2 linked regions of the Homo sapiens genome follow. Changing the gene in region 1 together with any one later gene gives a genetic interaction. Each region holds a gene or a part of one and is shown in the gene's direction. Other genes may lie near its edges. The genes, in order: RAB6A and EIPR1.

The links.
Region 2: changes in RAB6A (region 1) and EIPR1 are lethal when combined (synthetic lethality), as found in Homo sapiens cells (one study listed by BioGRID).

The regions. Positions count from the first base shown.
Region 1 is NC_000011.10:73,753,350-73,769,340, reverse strand, and holds the start of RAB6A (ras-related protein Rab-6A), read left to right. Parts: upstream 1-8,266; 5' UTR 8,267-8,705; coding exon 8,706-8,775; intron 8,776-9,245; exon of another isoform or gene 9,246-9,293; intron 9,294-15,991. UniProt on the Homo sapiens protein: The small GTPases Rab are key regulators of intracellular membrane trafficking, from the formation of transport vesicles to their fusion with membranes.
Region 2 is NC_000002.12:3,372,166-3,382,356, reverse strand, and holds the start of EIPR1 (EARP and GARP complex-interacting protein 1), read left to right. Parts: upstream 1-4,538; 5' UTR 4,539-4,667; coding exon 4,668-4,709; intron 4,710-10,191. UniProt on the Homo sapiens protein: Acts as a component of endosomal retrieval machinery that is involved in protein transport from early endosomes to either recycling endosomes or the trans-Golgi network.

The DNA.
Region 1 (15,991 bases):
CGAGCAACACTCCTGCCTCAGCCTCCCTAGTAGCTAGGATTATAGGCGCTCACCACCACACCCGGCTAATTTTTGTATTTTTAGTAGAAACGAGGTTTCACCATGTTGGCCAGGCTGGTCTCTTAACTCCTGAGGTCAAGTGATCCTCCTGCCTTGGCCGCACCAAAGTGCTGGGATTACAGATGTGAGCCACAGAGCCCGCCCATTTAAATTATTTAGAGTTGAGTTTTCTGTTTCTTCCAGCTGAAAGGTTCTGAAATGATAATGTTAGTAAATGGATCACATAGCAAATAAACTGTGGGGTTTTTTTCTTTATTTTTTTGTTTTTTTTTTTTTTTTGTTTGTTTTTTTCCCTCATCAAAAGATAGTGGAGTATATATATAAAGGGCACATGTCAACCCTATTGTAATCTTTGTTGTCTGTATTGGACTACAGCTACGATGTAGGTGTTCTTGCAAGCCTCCTCTGGAAAGACTGCACACTGTCCTTGATAATCTCCGATCTGGACAACAGCAATAACAGCGTGTCAGGTAAAGCCAGGAAGACAGTTGGTATGAAAAGTGATTTGGAAATTTTTTGTCTTTATTGATGAAAATAATGCGAATTGGTTTTGTTTTGTTTTGGTGGATTTTTTTTTTTTTTTTTGAGACGGAGTCTCGCTCTGTCACCCAGGCTGGAGTGCAGTGGCATGATCTCGGCTCACTGAAATCTCCACTTCCCAGGCTCAAGGAATCCTCCCATCTCAACCTCCTGAGTAGCTGGGATCACAGAAGTGCACCACCATGCCTGGCTAATTTTTTGTATTTTTGGTAGAGATGAGGTTTCATCATGTTGCCCAGGCTGGTCTAGAAATTAATGTGGGCCGGGCCCTGTGGCTCACGCCTGTAATCCCAGCACTTTGGGAGGCTGAGGTGGGCAGATCAGGAGGTCAGGAGATCGAGACCATCCTGGCTAACACAGTGAAACCCTGTGTCTACTAAAAATATAAAAAAATTAGCTGGGCATGGTGCCATGCGCCTGTCCCAGCTACTCGGGGGGCTGAGGCAGGAGAATTGCTTGAACCCGGGAGGTGGAGGTTGCAGTGAGCCAAGATCGCGCCATTGCACTCCACACTCCAGCCTGAGCAACAAGGGCGAAACTCAGTCTCTTTTTTAGGCATATGAGACTGCCTGCCGTTGTTATGGAAGATGCTTGGGAAGAGATGGTTGTTTATCAATTCCCCTGTCTTTTGGCAGCACCTCACCCTGGTACTTTACTATGCCTGGTTAACTGAGCCTAGAACTTTTTTTTTTTGAGACGGAGTCTCACCCTGTTGTCCAGGCTGGAGTGCAATGGCGCGATCTCGGTTCACTGCAACCTCCGCTTCCTGGGTTCAAGCGATTCTCCTGCCTCAATCTTCCCAAGTAGCTGGGATTACAGGTGCCTGGTACCATGCCCGGCTAATTTTTGTATTTTTAGTAAGGGTTTCACCATGCTGGCCATGCTGGTCTCGAACTCCTGACCTCAGGCTATCCGCCCCGCTTCGACCTCCCAAAGTGCTGGGGTTATAGGCGTGAGCCACGGCGCCCCGCTGCTGAGAGCTTCTTATATTCAGTTTCACCATAGAAAGGGATGGGTTTAAAATGCTGTTCATACAGTCCTTGATACAATTCCCTTGTTTTTGTCCTCGTTTTACCCCCTACCTTATATGGTACCTGGTATTTCACATTCCTGAGCAGAATTTCTGCAGTTCCGCTTAGCTGATTGGCTTGCTTCTTGTTAATTCATCCTTCAGTAAGCACTTTATATGTTCTGTTTAGTCAGTTACCATTGCTCTATCTTTGTCCCCCATCTTAAAATATTATGGCTCTGGGTTACAGATGTCAAATCCAGAGTTTGCATTTTAATTTCTTTATTCTCGTTTTGGAATGGTTTCAGAGAGAGAAGACAGAACATCTTTATCTTCCTAAAACCGGTAGTTTTTTCATTTTTCCTGTGATGTTGGGGCTTATTATCTCACTTCATAGTTTGAGCTACAACTTCTATAATTATTTTGATATCTTTTGATTTTATATAAAATAAAGTCCTAGTTACTTTGTGTTAATTGAAAAGCCGAAGAAATATTCACAGAAAGATAGTTTCTCTTGGCTTCTTTGGCAAGTTACAATTTGGCTGTGCAGTCTGTTGGTATTTCAGTGCAAACAGTGTTGGTCTCACTTTTCTATCCTAAGATGCTCTGTTCTTTATATAAACAGCAGTAGAGGCAGTTGTTCTCTTCTACTCTGAGAGTGATTATCACTTAGTAGCAGGTGGAGTGATTCATTCTCTTGTACATCTTAGAGGAGACTTTATTATTTGTGGGGGATAGAGTGTGGGGAGAGGAGAGCTCCAGCAATGTGTCAGATTTTATACATTCTGGACTAGCATAAAAAGCAGCAAGTTCTTCCCCCACTGCAATTTCAAAGCCTGGAAGTAACACCTCACTTACAAGGCTTTGAGAAATCACATTATTCATAATGGGGACCATGATTCACATGAACAGAACAAAATGGAATTATCAAAAATAGATTCTGTAGATCAATCCGTAGCAAAAATATCTTCTGACTTAGCTATTAATTGGCTATAATTACAGGAAGGACCATTCCATTTAAGTTCTAACACCTTCTCCACTTTGACTGAATAATCTTTATTCTCCCATGGCATGTCCTTATAGGTCAAAGTATTTGGAAAACAGGTTTTAACATGACTCGTCTCCCCCTTTATTTTTTGTAGTCTTTTAAAAATGAGACTTACTTCAACATACCTTGTGTTAATTGTACTCATTTAACTGGTCACCTTGAATTACTGAGCATTTGTCATTTTTATGCTTTGTATATTGACCCATTATTATTTTTAGTAGCAATGATTATAATAACCTGCAGTGTGGGTTAGAAGGGCTTTGCATTTGATGGAATTTGAATTCCTGCCAGAGCTATTATTTGTTTCAAATGTGAGCAATATGATTTCAGTCCTTTTACCTGTACAGTTTTTCTCCTTCTATTGATTTCCTGCCTCTCCAACAGTAATAAATCCCTTTTTAGGGAGTAGTAAACAGAAAAAGGCAGTTCCAGTGTGGTAACTACTACTTTATATATACACATACAATATTGAGTGCCTAATATTCAAGGAACTATGCAAGGTGTTTTAAGGGATCTAAATATGAGAATGTGAGCTGCAAGTAACAATAACAAAGAAATACAAAGACACATAAAAGCATTATTAAATATAAAGACATTTATTATGTTACTAAAAAGAAATCTAGGCGGCCAGTTCCAGGGCTGGTACAGCGGCTCAATGATGCCTTTTAGCTTTCTGCTTAGCCGTCATCAATGATTGGCTTTTTTCATTAGAATTATATATTAATGTTCGGCCGGGTGCGGTGGCTCACGCCTATAATCCCAGCACTTTGGGAGGCTGAGGCGGGCAGATCACGAGGTCAGGAGATCAAGACCATCCTGGCTAACACAGTGAAACCCCATCTCTACTAAAAATACAAAAAAATTAGCCGGGCATGGTGGCAGGCGCCTGTAGTCCCAGCTATTCGGGAGGCTGAGGCAGGAAAACGGCGTGAACCCGGGAGGCAGAGCTTCAATGTTCAGAAGAGCTATCTTAGCTCTAAATATCATGTCCTTACACAGCTACATCAATGGCAGAAAAATGGCAGTTTTTTCTCATTTATTCCTTTTCATCAAGGAAGAAAATATGTCTCTCTATCTCTCTTCTTCTCTTAGAATAAAAAAAGCCTCTAGCACATTTCCTTCATCTCCCACTGGCTCAGATGGACTCATGTGCCTATAACTTAGCTGAAGGGAGGCTGGAAACACATCTGTCATTTCTAGTATATATGGTGGAAGTATGTGTGTGTGTTATGTGTGCATTGCTGGATATGCAACCACTAGTGTCTGTCACTAAGAATAAGATGAAATTGACTGGGCGCAGTGGCTCACGCCTGTAATCTCAGCACTTTGGGAGGCCAAGGCAGGAGGATCACTTGAGGTCAGGAGTTTGAGACTAGCCTGGCCAACATGGTGAAACCCCGTCTCTACTGAAAATACAAAAATTAGCTGGACATGGTGGCACACTTCTGTAATCTCAGCTACTCAGGAGGCTGAGGCAGGAGAATCGCTTGAACCCAGGAAGTGGAGGTTGCAGTGAGCCGAGATCGGCCACTGCACTCCAGCCTGGACAGAGTAAGACTCTGTCTCCAAAAAGGAAAAAGAGAAATTTCAGCCAAGCACAGTGGCTCACGCCTGTAGTCCCAGCACTTTGGGAGAGCAAGATGGGCAGATCATCTAAGGTCGGGGGTTCGAGACTAGCCTGACCAACATGGAGAAACCCCATCTCTAGTAAAAATACACAATTAGCTGGGCGTGATGGCACATGCCTGTAATCTCAGCTACTCAGGAGGCTGAGGTGGGAGAATTGCTTGAACCCGACAGGCGGAGGTTGCGGTGAGCCGAGATCACGCCATTGCACTCCAGCCCGGGCAACAAGAGCAAAACTCTGTCTCAAAAAAAAAAAAAAAAAAAAAATTCAGTCCTCCTGCAAGAAGTTTTGTGTCTCTCAGGGCAGAAGATAAGCTATAATTTTATTACAATTTCTGTGTGATAGATTCCCTACATACTCCTGGGCTTCAATTTAGATATGACCTTTAAATAGATAATGAAAGCTGCTTTAGGTACTTTGAATTTGGAGCTGTGAAGACTGTCCTCTCCCATTGTTCCTAATTTTTAGTTACAAGATCTGTTCTCAGCATCTTTTTCATAAGTAATGGTTTAGGAAAGAAGTATCAAATTACATGACATATTTTTGGGTAATGTTCTCTTTCTCCAAAATGCTCTTAACCTTCCTTCTCTGCATGCCCAAATCCCATTCATCCTTTGAAGACAGTGAAAAATAATTCCTCTTTTATTTGATTTTGTCAGCAAACATCTGCTGCATGCTTACTATGTAGCAAGCACTCTTCAAGCACTGGGGATACAAGATGAGATCTGACCTCGTGGAGGTTACAGTCAAGTAGGGAACACTGACAATGAACAGCAATTAAGAATAGGATACAATAGGACAGGCAAAGGTACTTATACTGTTAGTGGGGATGGGAGCAGATGGGAGCAAGACTTGTGTGGTAGACTGAATGTTTGTGTCTCCCCAAAATTCATATGTTGAAACTATAGTCCCCAATGTGATGGTATTAGTAGGTGGGACCCTAGGGAGGTGATTAGGTCATGAGGGTGGAGTGCTCATAAATGGGATTAGTTCCCTTGTAAGAGGGAGCCCAGAGAGCTTTCTTGCTCTCTTTCTGCCATGTGAGGGCACAGTGAGAAGATGGTTGTCTATGAACCAGGAAGTGGGCCTTCACCAGACACAGTATCTTCTGGTACCTTGCTCTTGGACTTTCCAGTCTCCAGCTGTGAGAAATAAACATTTGTTGTTTAAGCCACCCAGTCATGGTATTCTGTTATAGCAGCCTGAATGGACAAAGACAACTTCTTTAAGTGGTAAGTGATTTAAAAGAAAAAAAAAAAAAGACAATTTCTTTAACTGAAGGATGAGTAGGAATTGGGGAAGAGTGGGGAAGGGAGGGGAAGAGTGTTTGCAGTAAAGAGAAGTGAGCGTAGGAAATCATGAAGGTGAAAATGTTGGTGAAAATACTCTTGAAAAGGGCCTCTCTAATTCCTCTTTCTCCTGAGTAATTTTTCCATTTGCTATACCCTACAGCACTTAATATGCAATGTTTAGGCCATAAAGTCTCTGAAGACAAAACTTACACAGAGTACTTGGTAATATGAAGGCAGCTTCAGAGGATAATGAGGCTGTGTATGTGTCAATGCAAAATGAAAGCTTAAAACATTAAAACATTTTAGGTAAGAGGTGGACTAGACCATAAGGCCCTTCAAAATGACAGGGAACAGTACCACCTGTCTAGGTGACTACAGAGACCAAAGCAGCAGGGAGGACTGATTCATAAAGTTCTGTAGGAAGTACAAAGTAATTATAGTTCCAATCCTCAGATGTTACTTTAAAGTCTATTTCAGGAAGCATAATGAAAACTTGGTACCCATCAGAAAGAAAATAGCTACTCACTTTTGTTTGCATAATCTTTTTAAAAAGTTTCTTGGTTTAAGCTGCTCTTTGTATGTGCCAGGGTTCTGGGTTAATGGTGGAGAGGACCCTATTAGATCTGACAAACTACTTGTAAAATCAAATGTCCATGCTACAAGCCAGGTTTTTACCATTTTATTTTAGATGCATGTTCTACCTGCACATGGCTGGGAGAGGAACCAGAAGGGAGTAAATTTTGATAGAGATGGTTTGAGGATATAGCTGTTGTCTTGATAGGCCAGAATAGATGATATTTTAAGAACTTTGGTTCTTCCCTGTAATTTATTCTAGGTCAGCAATTCATCCCTGGGCCTGAGAAGGCACTTTTTCAATCCTGTCATTTCTACAGCTAAGCAAATAACTCCCCAATAATGAGAAAAAGTACATAAATGTTTTGTGAATGATATACACAAATGATATACATTTGTGTATAGACACAAATGTAAGGACATATTTTTTATTATTCACTTAGAAAGTTTTTTTGTTTTTTTTTTTTTTTTTTAAGACAGGGACTTGTTCTGTCACCCAGATTTCAGTGTAGTGGTGCCATACCTCAGCCTCCAACTCCTGGACTCAAGCAATCCTTCTGCTTCAGGCTCCTGAGTAGCCGGAACTACAGGAGCACACCACGATATTCGGCTATTTTATTTTTTGTAGAGATAGTGTCTTGCTTTGTTGCCCAGCCTGGTCTCGAACTCCTGGGCTCAAGCGATTCTACCGCCTCGGCCTCCCAAAGTGCTGGGATTACAGACGTGAGCCACCGCGCCCAGCTGCTTTATGGATTTTTTTTTTTGGAGACAGAGTCTCGCTCTTGTTGCCCAGACTGGAGTGCAATGGTGTGACCTTGGCTCACTGCAACCTCCGCCTCCCGTGTTCAAGCGATTCTCCTGCCTCAGCCTCCCAAGTAGCTGGGATTACAGGCACCCGCCACCACACCACGTTAATTTTTTGTATTTTTAGTAGAGATGGGGTTTCATCATGTTGGCCAAGGCTGGTCTGGAACTCCTGACGTCAGGTGATCCACCCAACTCAGCCTTCCAAAGTGCTGGGATTACAGGGATGAGCCACCACGCCCGGCTTTTTTTTTTTTTTTTTTTTTTTTTTTCTGTTGAGATGGAGTCTCGCTCTGTCGCCAGGCTGGAGTGCAGTGGTGTGATCTCGGCTCACTGCAACCTCCGCCTCCCGGGTTCAAGCGATTCTCCTGCCTCAGCTTCCCGAGTAGCTGGGACTACAGGCGCGCGCCACCACCCCCAGCTAATTTTTGCATTTTTAGTAGAGACAGGGTTTCACCATGTTGGCCAGGATGGTCTCGATCTCTTGACCTCGTGATCCACTCGCCTCCGCCTCCCAAAGTGCTGGGATTACAGCCGTGGGCCACCGCGCCCAGCCCGCTTTATGGATTTTGCAAGTCATTTACTCCCTCTAAGCTTCAGTTTCCTCATCTGCAAAATTGGGAGGCCATGATTCTGGCAGTTATAACATTCCTGGGAGCAATGGAGGAGAATGTTATTTAGTAAGATGCCTGTGAGGAATTATGATGAGAGGATGGAGAAGGTGGGGTGTGTGCAATGGTGAAGAAGGGATCTGAGGACTGTGAGGCACGGCTGAGGGCTCAGGAAAGAGGCTCCCATTACAAATTTTAAGGCTATAGGACCCCACCCACACTTTTTGGGGGATCATATTCCACCTTTGTCCCGGCCCCGCCTCCGCCCCACCCTTCTCCCCCTCCCCTTTCTTTCCTTCCCCTCCCCTCAGGCTGAGAGGCGCCACACTTCTTATGGCCGCCACAGTGCTCCGCTTTCCACAGCTCGAGGGCTGCGCGCGCTCTCACGCTGCCACCTCACTCGCGTGTGGGCTCGCCCTCAGCCCCTTCCGATTGGCTCATTATGTAAGTGACGTAAGGGCTCCAGCCTCCCACTAACTTATCCCTGGCTTGCCCCGCCTCCTCCTGGCTTCTTTTGACGCCAGTGGAAACCTAACCTGCCCCGTCGCCGCCGTGCGGGAGGAGCCGGTAGAGCTGTCCAAACCAGGAAGGCGATGGCGATGGCGGTGGCGCGCACGCATGCACGCACGCACGCACGCCAGCGGCCGGCGGGGCCGCAGGCTCGCGCCCGGGCTCGCCCCGCGCCGCTCCAGAGGCTCGCGCACTCAGCAGGTTGGGCTGCGGCGGCGGCGGCAGCTGTGGAAGCTCAGGCGCTGCGCGTGAGAGGTCCCAGATACGTCTGCGGTTCCGGCTCCGCCACCCTCAGCTTCTCTTCCCCAGGTCTGGGAGCCGAGTGCGGAAGGAGGGAACGGCCCTAGCTTTGGGAAGCCAGAGGACACCCCTGGCTCCTGCCGACACCGCCCTCCTTCCCTTCCCAGCCGCGGGCCTCGCTCGGTGCTAGGCTACTCTGCCGGGAGGCGGCGGCGGCTGCCAGTCTGTGGAGAGTCCTGCTGCCCTCCAGCCGGGCTCCTCCACCGGGCCTTGCAGGGGCCGAGAGAGCTCGGTGCCCGCCCTTCCGCTCGCCTTTTTCGTCAGCTGGCTGGAGCAGCATCGGTCCGGGAGGTCTCTAGGCTGAGGCGGCGGCCGCTCCTCTAGTTCCACAATGTCCACGGGCGGAGACTTCGGGAATCCGCTGAGGAAATTCAAGCTGGTGTTCCTGGGGGAGCAAAGCGGTGAGTGCGTGGCTCCCCTACTCCTGGCAGCTGGCCGCAGCGTCCCCGCACCGCCCCCGGTGCGGCCCTTCCGTCCGCGGAGGCTCCCTGCCCGCCTCGCGTCCGCGCTCGTTGCCACCGCAGCCCTTCCCGATGTGCCCCCCGGTGCCACTGGCTCTTCGCCAGTGGCCGAGTTTTTACCCTGTTCCCCGGGTTCTTCAATCCTCGACTCCCCGGCTCCGTTCCCCGCAGTCCGGCCATCTCCGGTCGATCTGCCCTCCCTCCCCAGACCTCACCCCGCCCAGCCTCTTGTCCATCCCTTTCTTCCTCCGGTCTCGGTCATTGCCCGTACCCCGGCCCCCTTTCTTGAGCCCCACCCTTATTCCTTGCTCTTTTCCCAGTTCCTCAGCTCTGTGAGGCCCACTCAGGGAAGCCCCACTCCCGAGAGCGGGCCCTCTTCAACCTTGGCCAAGGAGGGTGGGATCTGGGCGTTGTTTTCCCCAGAGGCTTGGCCCTGCGAAGTGCTGATGTCGTGGAAGGTGGGAAGGGGTGGTAGTAGAAAAAATTAAATGATTTTCACCTGGGTGGGAAATTAGTCTGGGCCATAGAGGAAACATCTGAATTGGAGACGACTTGAGCATGGGGTGGTTGGGGGTGAAAGGGGTAGCGTCGGCAGTGGAGATTTTTGCCCCTTAGGTTAGATGGGGCTGTGGCTTGTCGGAAAACCTCATTTTGTTCTCTTGACTTTCATCACTGACAATTCTTTTGGCAATGTTGATGATTTTTCAATCTCTGCCAGATGCTATGTCATGATCATTTTACTTGGAATTTTTCTCATCTCACCTCCCCTTTTTCTCTTTTCAACATGAAGCAGCGTCTGAGTCTCATGGTGGTACAAAAGGGAATTACTGGGGAAATGTTAATTATTCATTCCTTCTTGAGTATTTTCCAATGATATATTGAGGATTCATGTGAGAGAAGGCTTGGAATAACAAACATCTTTGTTTTGTCGGATTTCCTTTGGAAAATGGAGTAGAGTAGGAACAGACTCATCATCTAGTTACCTAAATTAGATTTAAATACCATTTGGGCTAAATAATTCTTTTATGCTTAATATTCTGTACTGTCTGATGAGTGAAATTGTTATGTCATTTACCTGGTCAGGTTCTGCTGTCACTGTACTTTTGTATTAGATACTAGATCCTAATTTTGTGATGGTTGTATCTACGATTACTTCTTGTAGTAATTCCAGTTTTATGCTGTATTATACAAACTTGACACTCGACAATTCAGAGATGATTACCCTCCTTTGTTTTTCTCATACTTTGCATGCCCATCTTTAAAATTCAGACATTGAGAGATTAGTTCTGAGTCATCAAACATTGAGTACCTACTAGGTGTTTTAGGTGAGGTTATAGAAAACATTAGTTATTTGTTTTGACTGGAAGGCATGTAAGTGATATAAATTCGTAGCTTTTATTACTACTTTGAACTATTTATACTAATTTGTATGCCATCACAGAGGTTAATACTCTTGCAAAATTGCCTCCAGTTAGAACTGGGAAATCATTTTTCTCCTTTCATGTGTAGATTATCTTCCCCTCCTCCCTTTTGGGGGGAAAAATACAATCTCCCTCCTTTTTGCTTATATATTTTCCTGAAGTAAGTATAAACTTGTGTCTTTAGGTGAGTAACTTGGTAGAACCTATGGAGTTGCTTCTAGTCCAGCTTTTCTGTGTCAATATCAGGATAGTTCCCAAACATAAAATATAGTTTATTGGTTATTATTGATAAAAAGGATCCAAAGTGCTTATTGTGCATTCTAAGGATATTATTGCCTTCCTTATGTTGTGATGCACAGCTATTTAGTTTGCATGAAAAAACCTATTCATCTTCCTGCCTAAAAAGGTTTTAGCATGAATGGAGTGCTTAACTTCCTAAGTATCTTCAGGTTTCCTTTGAATTTCTTGAGTATTTGTGTATGTTCTAATGCATAATGGAGAGTTTTATGGCTTCTAATTTCGTACCTTGTTTAAGCCTCTACTACCCTCCCCCCTCCATTACTGAAGCCTGGTTAGATTTTTTTTAATAGACTTCATTTTTTAGAACAGTTTTAGACTTACAGAAAAATTGAAAAGATAGTGTAGAGTTCCCATATACCCACACATCTAGTTTCCCCTGTTATCAACATCTTGCATTAGTATGGCACATTTGTTAACAATTAATGAACTAATATTGATATGTTATTATTAACTTAAGTCCATAGTTTATTTAGATTTTTAGTTTTAACCTAATGTCCTTTTTCTGTTTCAGCATTCAATTCAGGATGTGAAGTTAATTATCTTTTGAGGTTACTATATTGTCAAGTAATGCCATTCATTAGCTTTGACAATGAAAGATTGATCTCTGTTTTCATGGTCAGTGTCTATAGTTTTCTTATGCGTTAGAAGTCTGTAGACTCCATGTCCTTTTGATGTAACTCTTCATGAATTATTTATTTTTAGGTCTGTTAGAATTCCACAATTCAGCTTTCAAAGACTGTAATCTATGGCAAAGCCTTGTTTCTTCTTAATAGCATTTACCACATTTACAATTATCTTATTTTTTATGTGTTTGTTTTTATTTCCCACAGAAGAATGCAACTCCCATGAAGATAAAAACTATTCTTTTTTGTTCAGTGTGTCCCCATTGCCTAGCGTAGAGCCAGGCTCATAGTAGCTGTTCAGACATGTTGGGTAAATGAATGATGGCTGAATCTAGTAGTAACGAAAGCTAGTAGCCTATGTTACACTCTTTGACATGGTTACGCAATTGATAGTTTAACAATAACACTTAAAACTTACATCATTTGATTGTATACAGGAATATATCAGATACTTAAGGGGGTAGAGAAACCAATCGTTTAGAGGCCCAACCATTTCATTCAAAAAATAGGACTGACCTGAATTTTGTACTTTTTTTTGAGTTGAGCAAAATTCGTCTTCCTTTATTAAAGTTGTTAAATTATTTGCTATTAATGTAACGCATGAAAAGTATTCAAATTATACCAATGATGTGCTCATGGAACTGATTTGAAATTAGGTTTTATTTGGCTTATCAAAAATTTAAGATACTAGGCTGGGTGCGGTGGTTCATGCCTGTAATCCCAGCACTTTGGGAGGCTGAGATAGGTGAATCATCTGAGGTCAGCAGTTCAAGACCAGCCTGGCTAACATGGTGGAGTCCCCGGCTCCCCCCCACCCCATGGCCCGGTCTCTACAAAAATACAAAAATTATCCAGGTATGATGGCGGGTGGGAGCCTGTAATCCCAGCTACTCAGGAGGCTGAGGCAGGAGAATCGCTTGAACCTGAGAGGCGGAGGGTGCAGTGAGCTGAGATCATGCCATTGCACTGCAGCCTGGGTGACAGAGTGAGACTCTGTCTCAAGAAAAAAAAAAAAAAAAAAAAAAAAAAAAATATATATATATATATATATATATATATATATGTATGTATATTTAAGATACTACGCTCTATAGTGAAAATGAATTGTGTCAGTACATGAAGCAGATTGAGTTAATGACATCAATCTTAACCTTAGATAAATTCTTACGGTTTAATAAAGGAATGTTTGGCTGGGCGTGGTGGCTCACGCCTGTAATCCCAGCACTTTAGGAGTCCGAGGCAGGCAAATCACCTGAGGTCAGGAGTTCAAGACCAGCCTGGCCAACATGGCAAAATCCCATCTCTACTAAAAATCCAAAAACTAGCTGGGCGTGGTGGCGTGTGCCTGTAATCCCAGCTACTCAGGAGGCTGAGGCAGGAAAACTGCAACCCAGGAGGTGGAGGTTGCAGTGAACTGAGATTGCCCCACTGCACTCCAGCCTGGGCCTCAGAGCGAGACTTTGTCTCTAAATAAATAAATAAAGGAATGTTGAAATACACAATTGGAAGTTTCCTTGAGGAGTCTGTTTTGTTACTACCTCTGGCTATTGTCTTGAGATGCAGAGGCAGTTTTAGTAATGTCACTCAGTGGTTTACAGTAGAAGATTTCACTATATATACATGTTACCAATTATAAATTAGGAGATGTAATGGCAGAGAGAAGCGCATACTCAGCCTACTACTGTTTTTTTCACTTTATATTGCCTTTTCTTTTTTTCCATCAATGCTGATCAAATTGCAATATGTTAGATAAGGAAAAAATGTCTTATTGTCAGAGACTAGCAGTACTGACCAGTTGTTTTTCTTTTGAGACGGGGTCTACCTCTGTCACTCAGGCTGGAGTGCAGTGGTGTGATCTCAGCTCACTGCACCCTCCACCTCCCAGGCTCAAGTGATCCTCCCACCTCAGCCTCCCAAGTAGCTGGGACAACAGGCACGCACCACCACGCCTGGCTAATTTTTGTATTTTTTTGTAGAGATGGGATTTTACCATGTTGCCCAGGCTGGTCTCAAAGTTTTGAGCTGGCGAGATCCTCCGGCCTCAGCCTCCCAAAGTGCTGGGATTACAGGTGTGAGCCACCACGCCTGGCCAGTACTGAACATTTTATATTGGCTAGATCAGTGGTTTTTAAACTTTTTTTCCCCAAGACCCCTTTCTGCTCTTACAAATTTTTGAGGATCCTGAAGAGCTCTGTTAATGTAGTTGTTATTGTTGTTCTTCTTCCTCCTCCTCCTCTTCTTTCTCCTCCTCCTCTTCTTCCTCCTCCTCTTCCTTCTCCTCCTCCTCTTGTTCTTCTTCCTCCTCCTCCTCTTCTTTCTCTTCCTTCCCCCTTCTCCCTTCCTTCCCCCTTTCCACCTCCCCCTTCCTTTCCTTTTCTCCCTTCCTTCCTCCTTTCCTCTTCCCATTTCCTTCCCCCTTCTTGGATGCAGTGACTGTTCACAGGGGCTATCATGGCCAACTGCAGCCTTGTCTCAAGCTCTCCTCCTGCCTCAGCCTCCCTAGTAGCTGGGACTATAGGCACATGCCACTGTGCCTGACTTTTGTTTATGTAGTTTATGTCAACATTTAGGCCGGGTGCGGTGGCTCACGCCTATAATCCCAGCACTTTGGGAGGCCGAAGTGGGTGGATCACCTGAGGTCAGGGGTTCGAGACCAGCCTGGGCAACATGGCGAAACCCCGTTTCTACTAAAAATACAAAATTAGCCGGGCATGGTGGTGCGTGCCTGTAGTCCCAGCTCTTCGGGAGGCTGAGGCAGGAGCATTGCTTGAACTCGGGAGGTGGAGGTTGCAGTGAGCCAAGATCGTGCCACTGCGCTCCAGCCTGGGCAACAGAGTGAGGCTCCATCTCAAAATAAATGAATAAATATATCAACATTTACTGTATTGAAAAAGAAAATTTCAAAATATTTAATATGTTAAAAAATAATAGGGCCGAGCGTGGTGGCTCATGCTTGTAATCCCAGCATTTTGAGAGGCCGAGGTGGGCGGATCACTTGAGGCCAGAAGTTTGAGACCAACCTGGCCAATATGGTGAAACCCCGTCTCTACTAAAAATACAAAGAAATTAGCCTGGCATGGTGGTGGACGGTCCCAGTGGTAGTGCCAGCTACTCAGGAGGCTGAGGCAGGAGAGTCCCTTGAACCCGGGAGGTGGAGGTTGCAGTGAGCCAAGATCACGCCATTGCACTCCAGCCTGGGCAACGAGCAAAACTCCATCTCAAAAAAATAATAATAATAATAATAAACCCATTGCATGTTAATACCCTTTTTTTTTTTGACTGCATCCCTCTGTTGCCCAGGATGGAGTGAGTGCCTCCCGGGTTCGCGATTCTCATGCCTCAGCCTCCTGAATAGCTGGGACCACAGGTACATGCCGCCATGCCTGGCTAATTTTTTGACTTTTTAGTAGAGACAGGGTTTTGCTATATTGGCCAGGCTGGTCTCAAACTCCTGGCCTCAAGTGACCTGCTTGCCTTGGTCTCCCAAAGTGCTGGGATTACAGGCATGAGCCACTGTGCCCAGCCTTCATGTTAACATCATTTCTGAAATGAAAAAGAACTATTTTCCAAACAGATATTTAGTGAGAGTGACATTGTTTTACATATTTGCAAATCTCTTTAATGTCTGACTTAATAGAGGACAATTGGATTTGCATAGCTGCTTATGCATTCAATCCTGTAATATTACACATCATATAGGCACGGGGAAACTCCACAATACATTTCAAGAGAGTAAGAGTGAAAAATTCAAATAACATCTTAATCTTATGAAAATGGTTTTGACATCCAGGAGTTTGTGGACCTCCCCAAAGGTCTTGGGAGATCCTAAGGGGTCAGTAGACCACTCTTTGTAAACTGCTGGGTTAGGTAATATCAAGTCAATTGTATCTCCTGTTATAATGTTGCCAGTTTTTCATATCTTGTTCTGAAGCCTTAAAACTGCGTGGTACATACAGTTAATGATTTAGAGCACTAGAGGACTGGTAGAGATGGAGAGTAAGAGTCTAGGTTTCATGTTTTAGCAGTGGCTACTGACCTTTGGCAGATTACTCAACATGTCTTTATGCCCCATTTTTCCTTATCTATAACATAAAGATAATAGACCTATCATAGAGTTATTGTGACATTTAAACTAGTCAAATAATGCAAAACATTTAGAAGAGTGCTGGGCACATGAGAAGTGCTCAGAAAGTGTTTTAATTTAACAAATCTTTATTGAAAATTGCTACAGTGTCAGGTGGTTTGGTAGTGCTTACTTTTAAGGAATTTACGTTTTATCAGGGAAGAAATACACAATACTTAATACAATATAGCATGATGAGTGCCACTGCTTTTAAAAGTAGAGCTAAGGCTGGGCGTGGTGGCTCACGCCTGTAATCCCAGCACTTTGGGAGGCCTAGGTGGGCAGATCACTTGAGGTCTGGAGTTTTTTTGTTTTTTTGTTTTTTTTTCAGACGGAATCTCGCTCAGTCACCGAGGCTGGAGTGCAGTGGCGCAATCTCGGCTCACTGCAAGCTCTGCCTCCCGGGTTCATGCCATTCTCCTGCCTCAGCCTCCGGAGTAGCTGGGACTACAGGCGCCCGCCACCATGCCCGGCTAATTTTTTGTACTTTTAGTAGAGACGGGGTTTCACCGTGTTAGCCAGGATGGTCTCGATCTCCTGACCTCGTGATCTGCCTGCCTCGGCCTCCCAAAGTGCTGGGATTACAGGCATGAGCCACTGTGCCCGGCGAGGTCTGGAGTTGGAGACTAGCCTGGCCAACATGGTGAAACCCTGTCTCTACTAAAATACAAAAAATTAGCTGGGCATGA
Region 2 (10,191 bases), on another chromosome or scaffold:
TCAAGACCATACCGGCTAACATAGTGAAATGCTGTCTCTATTAAAATACAAAAAATTAGCCAGGCATGGTGGCGGGCGCCTGTAGTCTCAGCTACTTGGGAGGCTGAGGCAGCAGAATCACTTGAACCCAGGAGGCGGAGGTTGCAGTGAGCCAAGATCGTGCCACTGCACTCCAGCCTGGCGGCAGAATAAGACTCCATCTCAAAAAAAAAAAAAAAAAAAAAAAGTGGAAATAAACACTGCCTGTAGACACAATAATAAGTAAATAAGTAGACTGTGGTATACTAGGACATAAAATATTAAAATAGTGGTGAAAATCAGTGAACTCTTCCATATCTAACATATAAATTATGTTTGGATCTCACAAATACAATTTTGCACAAAGAATGAGTAGAAAAATAAACAGCATGACTCTGTATATTCAAAAACATGTAAATTAAACAAAAGTGTTGAATCCAAACACTTTTTCTGTGTTAGGAACACAAACATATTTGGTCAAACTACAAAGAAAAGCCAGGATATAGTAACAGCCACTTTAGTGAGGGAGGGGTGGAAGGTGATGGCAGGAGAGCTTGACTGGGGAGGGACACACGGAAGTTTCAACGCACTGGGAAATGGTCCCCATCTTATGCTGGTAATGGAAGACTGGGTTGACTTGATCTTTAAATCTCACATGTGTGTTACGGGTAGTCTTTATAGTTCATAATTAAAAATGGAAAAACACAAGTATCTGTTCTTGATTTGTACGTGATAGAAATCTTTACTCCCTCCTATCATTGGCTTTATTTTTATTAAACTATAAATAGGATTTTAAGCTTACATAAGCTTACAGAAGCTTTACATCACAGTGCAGCAAAGAAATCTGACTTTCTCCTTGTCCAGTTGAGGGCTTTGCACAAGAATGTGATTAATTAATTGTTTAAAATTTTTTTAAATATTAAATTTAAGTAATTCTGTATTTGAGAAATAAAAAGTTCCTAACAACATTTAAAACTTGGTTTCTCAGGTTCATTTCCTGGACACAGACACTCTGTAAACATATCTTTTACCAAATTGCAGTCATGTAAAATTTCCTTCCATAAGGGCACGAGGGTGTGTAGTGGAAATCTAGGTGGCACGTATTAACAGAAGTCTCCATGTAATGAACACTCACTACAGATCAAGCATTTTACCTTATTATTTAATACTCATCCTAAACTTTTGAAGCATTATTATTACCTCCATCATACAGCAGAGAAGGCCAAGTGATTTGCCTAACATCACACTGACAGTACCTGATGGTGACAGGCTACCCACACAGCGCTTTCTGCCAATACTCTTTTCTTTGTGCTGGTCACCTCTCAGCTCCTCTTGCAAGGTTGCCAGGCAGGGGTGGGCAGAAAGAGCTCTGAAGGCAGTGTCTCAATAACTGTGTTGAGTCTTAGCTTCCCGACCAAGTGAAGTAACCTCTGAAAATCTTGATCTTTTAGATGGTACATCAGAATAAAGAGGATTAAATAGTGGCACCCCTGCATAGGCATCTTTTAAAGTGTGAAGAGCTGCACAGACACAAGCATAGTAATTATCATTTTAATGATAAAGCAGAGTGGCAACACCCAGTTTAGTAACTGTGAAGAAGATCCCATCAGATATCACAAAATGTAAGAACTGAATGAGTAACACTGTGTAATATTTCATTTGCTTTTCCCCTGTCCCTCTCCCACCCCAATCCCAAGACGGGACTGGCTCATTATCCGCCACTATCTTCTGAATTTGCGAACAGTGACTGAATCCAAAGACACCATATCTTCAAGTAGCCATTAAAAAGTACAAACCGTAGGTCCAAGAAAATTTTTCCTTGGGGCTACACTGTTTCGTAGTGAAGAGTGAAAAAATGACACGTTAAAACACATCTTTGACCCTAACGCTTTCTGTTGAATAAACGCTTTTTCGGTCTTCACAGTAAATATACTCTACAATTAGTATGTGTAGCAACAGCGGACGTTTACACAGTGACTCAAATGCTTTTACACTGCATTGCAGCCTCACAATGCTGAGTTTGGCAGGGCAGGTCATTAGTAACCTCTTTCCGCGGGAGGGTGAATTAAGTCTAAGGGAAGTTAAGGGGCTTGCTGGGGGCCTGGCTGGCACCAAGCCTGGAACTGGGGGTCTCGGGGACGCCTGGGCGCGCGCCAGCGGGTAGTTTCCCACACGCTTCGCAGCAGCTTCCCCTTCCCGCAAACTCCGCGGGCTGCAGAGACGCTTCCAGCCCTCTGCAGACGTGGAGAGCAAGGGCCGCGGCGACGTGGAGCCTGGCACAAGGCCCGCGGAGCACACACGCCCTTGGGTGGCAGGCGACCCCGCGCCCGGACCCCACGCCCACTCTAGCATCGGTCCCAGAGAAGGTCCCTCCGGGCTGAGGCCAAAGCCAGTGTGCTCCCTCCCCGAGGTGGCGCTACACGGTCCCATCCCCTCTGGACTGCCGAGGCCCTGATCCTCACCTGCCACCCGCCCACTGGAGCTGGGCTAAGGGGTCACCTGCGGCCGTGACCAAGGTCCGTGAGGAAGGTGACAGAAGCCGGGAATCGGAGAGGAACTGGCACCCCCGGGGAGCTCTGTACGCCTGCGCGTGCCGGGCCGCGGCGCGCCTAGTTCTGCTCAGGCCCGATGCAGGAACCCGAGGCCCTGCCCCCAGGCCGGAAATGGGGTTCGTTTCCGGTTCGTCTGCTGTGGGCGGGGCCTGGAGCCCTAGGTGTGAACGCGCACAGGCAACCAGGAGCCGGTAGTTGAGGGGAGCGGACCCTGTACTTGGAAATGGGAACGGAGACTCCACTCCACCTAGCCTGATTCTGTCACTCAGAGGCAATAGGCAAGCCTGTGGCAGATGGGGCGGGTGAAAGGGAGTCGCTTAGGCTATTTTTATTGACCAGCATATCCTAGAAATCAGTGTTTCTATGGATTTGTCTTTGTGTTTATCTGTATTTTGTAAGTTTCTTACCATGCACCTGCAGTACTTGTATAATAAAATTAATGATAAAGATATCAGTGATAGATGGGTGGGTTTAATCCCGAAGTATGAAGGCCCTCTTAGCTCCGCAAGTTAATATCGGCAAACAGAGTGGTTGAATAGGATGATTCTCATGTCTGGGCCATTGCTTACTTGATTTCTTTCTTTCTTGTTTTTGCTTACTTGATTTCTTTCTTTTCTTTTCTTTTTTTTTGACCGACTCTGGCTCTGTCGCCCAGGCTGGAGTGCAGTGGCGCGATCTCGGTTCACTGCAACCTCCGCCTCCCGGGTTCAAGCGATTCTCCTGCCTCAGCCTCCCGAGTAGCTGGGATTACAGGCGCGTGCCACCACGCTGGGCTAAGTTTCGTATTTTTAGTAGAGACGGGGTTTCACTGTGTTGGCCAGGCAGGTCTCGAACTGACCTTGTGATCCACCCTCCTCAGCCTCCCAAAATGCTGGGGTTACAAGCGTGAGCCACCGCGCCCGGCCTGCTCATTTGATTTCTCATGTAATCTCTAAAATTTCATACACTCAACAGATACTCATCCAGCCTTAACTCAATACCACGCGCCTTGCCCAACTGAGCAAAACGAGACCCAACCATTTCCGTCACGGAGATCAATAAAGGGTAGAGGGGAAAGCTAATCACAGAAATGGAGGAAAGGTGCGTGGTCCTGGAAGCCCCGGTGGAACCAGGCTAGCGGCGTGGTTCAGCTATGATGTATTTTGGAGTCCTTGCGATGCCATTTCTGCTGGCCCAAGGCCAGGGCAGGCACTTTGAGCAGGATGCGAAAGAGGGGCAGTCTCTCCACCACAAGTCTTTAGTCTTTGGAGACCTCTAGGAACCCCAGGGCCTTCCCTTCCGACTCCCATTCGGAGGCATATGCAGTCCAGGACCACCAGTGGTGCGGTGCCGGCTTTCATAACCCCATCCTTGGTAGTGCTTTCTTTGCCACACAGTGCTGGGCACCTGCAGAAATGCATTAGGCATGGCCCTGACTTAGGGCACCTTGGGCCGAACCTAAGGGAGTCAGCTCAGGTGCCCATCCTGGCTACCCAATGGACCAATGAGCGCTGCGACTGTGTTACTCAACTTTGCAGCGTCTCATCGGTAAAATGGAAGTGTAACAGCTTATTCATAGGGTTGGATGAAGCTCCTTATGGCAGTGCGTGTGAAGCGCTGGCCCAGCGCTCAGGAACGCCAAGTACATACAAATGACAATACATGGCGGCGCCCAACTACGGCGTGAGCGATTCTTAGATGCGATGGCTAGCTAAGGCTAATCGCCGCTTGCTCCCGACGGCCTGCGCTCGGAGCCGGCCTCCACCCACAGCCGGCCTCCGCGGCCCGCTCCGCCCACCAACTTATTTCCTCTGGGCCGGGTTCTCACCTCCAGGAGTCCCCGCGCTGAGAGCCCGGATGTGAGCCCAAGTGGCCATGCGCACAAGCCAGCGCCGCTGCCATTGGTCGCTGGTGAGGAACAGATTGATGACACATCCGAAAAATAGGAAGTGGCCACTACGGAAGCTGTTCTGGGCCAGAAAGACTTCCAGTTTGGAGTCGTTTGCTGCGGGGAGGGAATGAATGGGCGCTGGGAACACGCCCGCGAGGTGGGGACGCGCCGGCCGTAGCGAGGTCCTTAGCGTGTGAGTGGCCGGGGTCGGGTCGCTTCCCCGCAGCATGGAGGACGATGCACCAGTGATCTACGGGCTGGAGTTCCAGGTGGGTCACTGGGAGGGCGGCAGGTGCTGCTCGGCCTGGCTGTTGATAGCATGCGCGGTCCCATGGTGACTTCGGTTTGCAGATCTCCCACCAGCCCTGCAAGGACCCGTGTCTGTTCCCTAGTTCCCATTTTGCAGAGAAGTAAACTGAGGCTTTAGGAGGTTAAACGGTTGTACTGGATAACAGGGTTGGCCACAGCCGGCCTGCCTCCTTCCCCTTCACATCCTGTCCCGAACATGACTTCTGACCTGGAAGTTATCACTCACTTTGGTGGACTCATTTATTTACACGCCCACCTTTTCCTCTAGAATTTGAGTTCCTGAAGGTAGGAACTGTATGTTGTTTAAAATAAAAATGTTTGATTTTGAAACAATTTAAAGTATTTAGAAGAGTTGTAAAAATACATAGAAAGTTCTTCTTTACCCTCCACCCAGCTTCCCTTAATGTTAACACTTTACATAACCATCGTACATTTATCACAGCTTAGAAATTAACATTGGTACACTAATATTCAGTAAACCACAGACTGTCTTCGGATTCAACTGTTTTCACACTAGTTTTTTACCTTGTATTTTCCAGTGCCTTTTCATGACTGTCACATAGTAGGTGTTCAACAAATGACTATGAACCGAATGAGCCCCCAGAGCATAAGCAATGCACATGGTAGTTCAGGACAGCAAGAAAGCTGCCGTGGATAGAGTAAATGCGTCAGGGGGAATGAGGTAGGGGATGAGATGAGCGGGGGAGGAAGATGAGGATTGTGTAGGGCCTGTTAGAGCCCTGTCCTGGTTTTCATCTATTCAAGTAGCTTTTGAGAATGTGTTATGCCTAAAGCACTGAGGGACAGATAGAGAGATAGAAACACAGTTCACTGCCATATGAAATACTTGATACATAATTTTGTGCAGCAGTATGTGTTAAAGATATAAATGATGTCTGCTTTTTTTTTTTTTTTTTGAGATGGAGTCTTGCTCCGTTGCCCAGGCTAGAGTGCAGTGGCGTGACCTCGGCTCACTGCAACCTCCGCCTCCCGGGTTTAAGTGATTCTCCTGCCTCAACCTCCCAAGTAGCTGGGATTACAGGCACCCGCCACCACGCCCGACTAATTTTTGTATTTTTAGTAGATACGGGGTTTCACCATCTTGGCCTGGCTGGTTTTGAACTCCTGACCTTGTGATCTGCCTGCCTCAGCCTCCCAAAGTGTTGGGATTACAGGCGTGAGCCACCGCACCTGGCCAATGTCTGTTTTTAAGTAGGTTACAGTCAGAGAGGCAGCAGTGTTAGTAGAATAACATATGCCACCCAGACACCTAAGTTTTAAATCCTGCCTCTAGCACTTATTAACTATGTGACCTTGGGCCTCGGTTTCCTTGCCAATAAAATATGCATCTCCCTCCCCCCCACCTCATGGCTGTTATGAAATTAAATGAGTTAATACACTTAATTGAATCACGTAGAACAGTGCCTGGTGCATAGTGTGTTCAATAATTGTTGTTCTAATTGTTATAATGAGAGAAAATTCCTTTTTTTTCCTTTGTAGAAATGGGGTTTCGCCATGTTGCCCAGGCTGGTCTCACACTCCTGAGCTCAAGTGATCTGCCCTCCTTGGCCTCCCAAAGTGCTGGGATTATAGTCATGAGCCACCGCACCCTGCCTAAGACAAAATTCTTACAAATAAATTTTATACAGGGCAGCAGTTAAGTGTCCTGTATAATAAACTGTGCTATAGGATTTGACCAGTGGCTATATCACATTCACAAGACTGATAGCTTAACTACCAGTGATTTAGCTCTGGACTATGTGTCAGACACTCTGCTTAGCACTGTACAAATATTTCATTTAATTCTCACAGCAATCATTATTGGTAGGTGTTATTGTTCCTGTTTTACGGATGAAGAGACAGCCTCAGAGAGAATAGTTACCTGTCCAAGGCCACTTAACTAGTAAATGATAGACCTTGGATTCTGACCTACTTAGACTTTCAACCCAAACTGACCTCGAGTCCCCTTACCTGCTAAGTTCTACTGCTTTCTCTTTAACTAGATACACATAGGGATACACAGGGAGAGACCACATGGGTAGATAGAAGGTTCTATAATCTTGTACTACCTGAAGATGCATACTCTGCCAGTGCTACTTAATTTAACTTCTTGATCTCCTTAAGAAATCTCTCAAAAAACCCAGAGGATTTTATCTTCAGTATTGTATCTTTGAGGTTAACTGAAATGTTATTTTCTTTTTTTTCTCTCTTTTTTTTTTAAATTATTATTATATTTTAAGTTTTAAGGTACATGTGCACAATGTGCCAGTTAGTTACATATGTATACATGTGCCATGCTGGTGTGCTGCACCCATTAACTCGTCATTCAGCATTAGGTATATCTCCTAATGCTATCCCTCCCCCCTCCCCCCACCCCACAACAGTCCCCAGAGTGTGATGTTCCCCTTCCTGTGTCCATGTGTTCTCATTGTTCAATTCCCATCTGTGAGTGAGAACATGCAGTGTTTGGTTTTTTGTCCTTGCGACAGTTTACTGAGAATGATGATTTCCAATTTCATCCACGTCCCTACAAAGGACATGAACTCATCATTTTTTATGGCTGCATAGTATTCCATGGTGTATATGTGCCACATTTTCTTAATCCAGTCTATCATTGTTGGACATTTGGGTTGGTTCCAAGTCTTTGCTATTGTGAATAGTGCCGCAATAAACATACGTGTGCATGTGTCTTTATAGCAGCATGATTTATAGTCCTTTGGGTATATACCCAGTAATGGGATGGCTGGGTCAAATGGTATTTCTGGTTCTAGATCCCTGAGGAATCGCCACACTGACTTCCACAATGGTTGAACTAGTTTACAGTCCCACCAACAGTGTAAAAGTGTTCCTATTTCTCCACATCCTCTCCAGCACCTGTTGTTTCCTGACTTTTTAATGATTGCCATTCTAACTGGTGTGAGATGGTATCTCATTGTGGTTTTGATTTGCATTTCTCTGATGGCCAGTGATGATGAGCATTTTTTCATGTGTCTTTTGGCTGCATAAATGTCTTCTTTTGAGAAGTGTCTGCTCATATCCTTTGCCCACTTTTTGATGGGGTTTTTTGTTTTTTTCTTGTAAATTTGTTTGAGTTCATTGTAGATTCTGGATATTAGCCCTTTGTCAGATGAGCAGGTTGTGAAAATTTTCTCCCATTTTGTAGGTTGCCTGTTCACTCTGTTGGTAGTTTCTTTTGCTGTACAGAAGCTCTTTAGTTTAATGAGATCCCATTTGTCAATTTTGGCTTTTGTTGGCATTGCTTTTGGTGTTTTAGACATGAAGTCCTTGCCCATGCCTATGTCCTGAATGGTAATGCCTAGGTTTTCTTCTAGGGTTCTTATGGTTTTAGGTCTAACGTTTAAGTCTTTATTCCATCTTGAATTAATTTTTGTATAAGGTGTAAGGAAGGGATCCAGTTTCAGCTTTCTACATATGGCTAGCCAGTTTTCCCAGCACCATTTATTAAATAGGGAATCCTTTCCCCATTGCTTGTTTTTGTCAGGTTTGTCAAAGATCAGATAGTTGTAGATATGCGGCATTATTTCTGAGGGCTCTGTTCTGTTCCATTGATCTGTATCTCTGTTTTGGTACCAGTAACATGCTGTTTTGGTTACTGTAGCCTTGTAGTATAGTTTGAAGTCAGGTAGCGTGATGCCTCCAGCTTTGTTCTTTTGGCTTAGGATTGACTTGGCGATGAGGGCTCTTTTTTGGTTCCATATGAACTTTAAAGTAGTTTTTTCTAATTCTGTGAAGAAAGTCATTGGTAGCTTGATGGGGATGGCATTGAATCTATAAATTACCTTGGGCAGTATGGCCATTTTCACGATATTGATTCTTCCTACCCATGAGCATGGAATGTTCTTCCATTTGTTTGTATTCTCTTCTATTTCATTGAGCAGTGGTTTGTAGTTCTCCTTGAAGAGGTCCTTCATGTGCCTTGCAAGTTGGATTCCTAGGTATTTTATTCTCTTTGAAGCAATTGTGAATGGGAGTTCACTTATGATTTGGCTCTCTGTTTGTCTGTTATTGGTGTATAAGAATGCTTGTGATTTTTGTACATTGATTTTGTATCCTGAGACTTTGCTGAAGTTGCTTATCAGCTTAAGGAGATTTTGGGCTGAGACAATGGGGTTTTCTAGATATACAATCATGTCGTCTGCAAACAGGGACAATTTGACTTCCTCTTTTCCTAATCGAATAGCCTTTATTTCCTTCTGCCTAATTGCCCTGGCCAGAACTTCCAACACTATGTTGAATAGGAGTGGTGAGAGAGGGCATCCCTGTCTTGTGCCAGTTTTCAAAGGGAATGCTTCCAGTTTTTGCCCATTCAGTATGATATTGGCTGTGGGTTTGTCATAGATAGCTCTTATTATTTTGAGATACTTCCCATCAATACCTAATTTATTGAGAGTTTTTAGCATGAAGCGTTGTTGAATTTTGTCAAAGGCCTTTTCTGCATCTATTGAGATAATCATATGGTTTTTGTCTTTGGTTCTGTTTATATGCTGGATTACATTTATTGATTTGCGTAGATTGAACCAGCCTTGTATCCCAGGGATGAAGCCCGCTTGATCATGGTGGATAAGCTTTTTGATGTGCTGCTGGATTCAGTTTGCCAGTATTTTATTGAGGATTTTTGCATCAATGTTCATCAAGGATATTGGTCTAAAATTCTCTTTTTTGGTTGTGTCTCTGCCCGGCTTTGGTATCAGGATGATGCTGGCCTAATAAAATGAGTTAGGGAGGATTCCCTCTTTTTCTATTGATTGGAATAGTTTCAGAAGGAATGGTACCAGTTCCTCCTTATACCTCTGGTAGAATTCGGCTGTGAATCCATCTGGTCCTGGACTCTTTTTGGTTGGTAAGCTATTGATTATTGCCACAATTTCAGATCCTATTATTGGTCTATTCAGAGATTCAACTTCTTCCTGGTTTAGTCTTGGGAGAGTGTATGTGTTGAGGAATTTATCCATTTCTTCTAGATTTTCTAGTTTATTTGCGTAGAGGTGTTGGTAGTATTCTCTGATGGTAGTTTGTATTTCTGTGGGATTGGTGGTGATATCCCCTTCGTCATTTTTTATTGCGTCTATTTGATTCTTCTCTTTTTTTCTTTATTAGTCTTGCTAGCGGTCTATCAATTTTGTTGATCCTTTCAAAAAACCAGCTCCTGGATTCATTAATTTTTTGAAGGGTTTTTTGTGTCTCTATTTCCTTCAGTTCTGCTCTGATTTTAGTTATTTCTTGCCTTCTGCTAGCTTTTGAATGTGTTTGCTCTTGCTTTTCTAGTTCTTTTAATTGTGATGTTAGGTGTCAATTTTGGATCTTTCCTGCTTTCTCTTGTGGGCATTTAGTGCTATAAATTTCCCTCTACACACTGCTTTGAATGTGTCCCAGAGATTCTGGTATGTTGTGTCTTTGTTCTCATTGGTTTCAAAGAACATC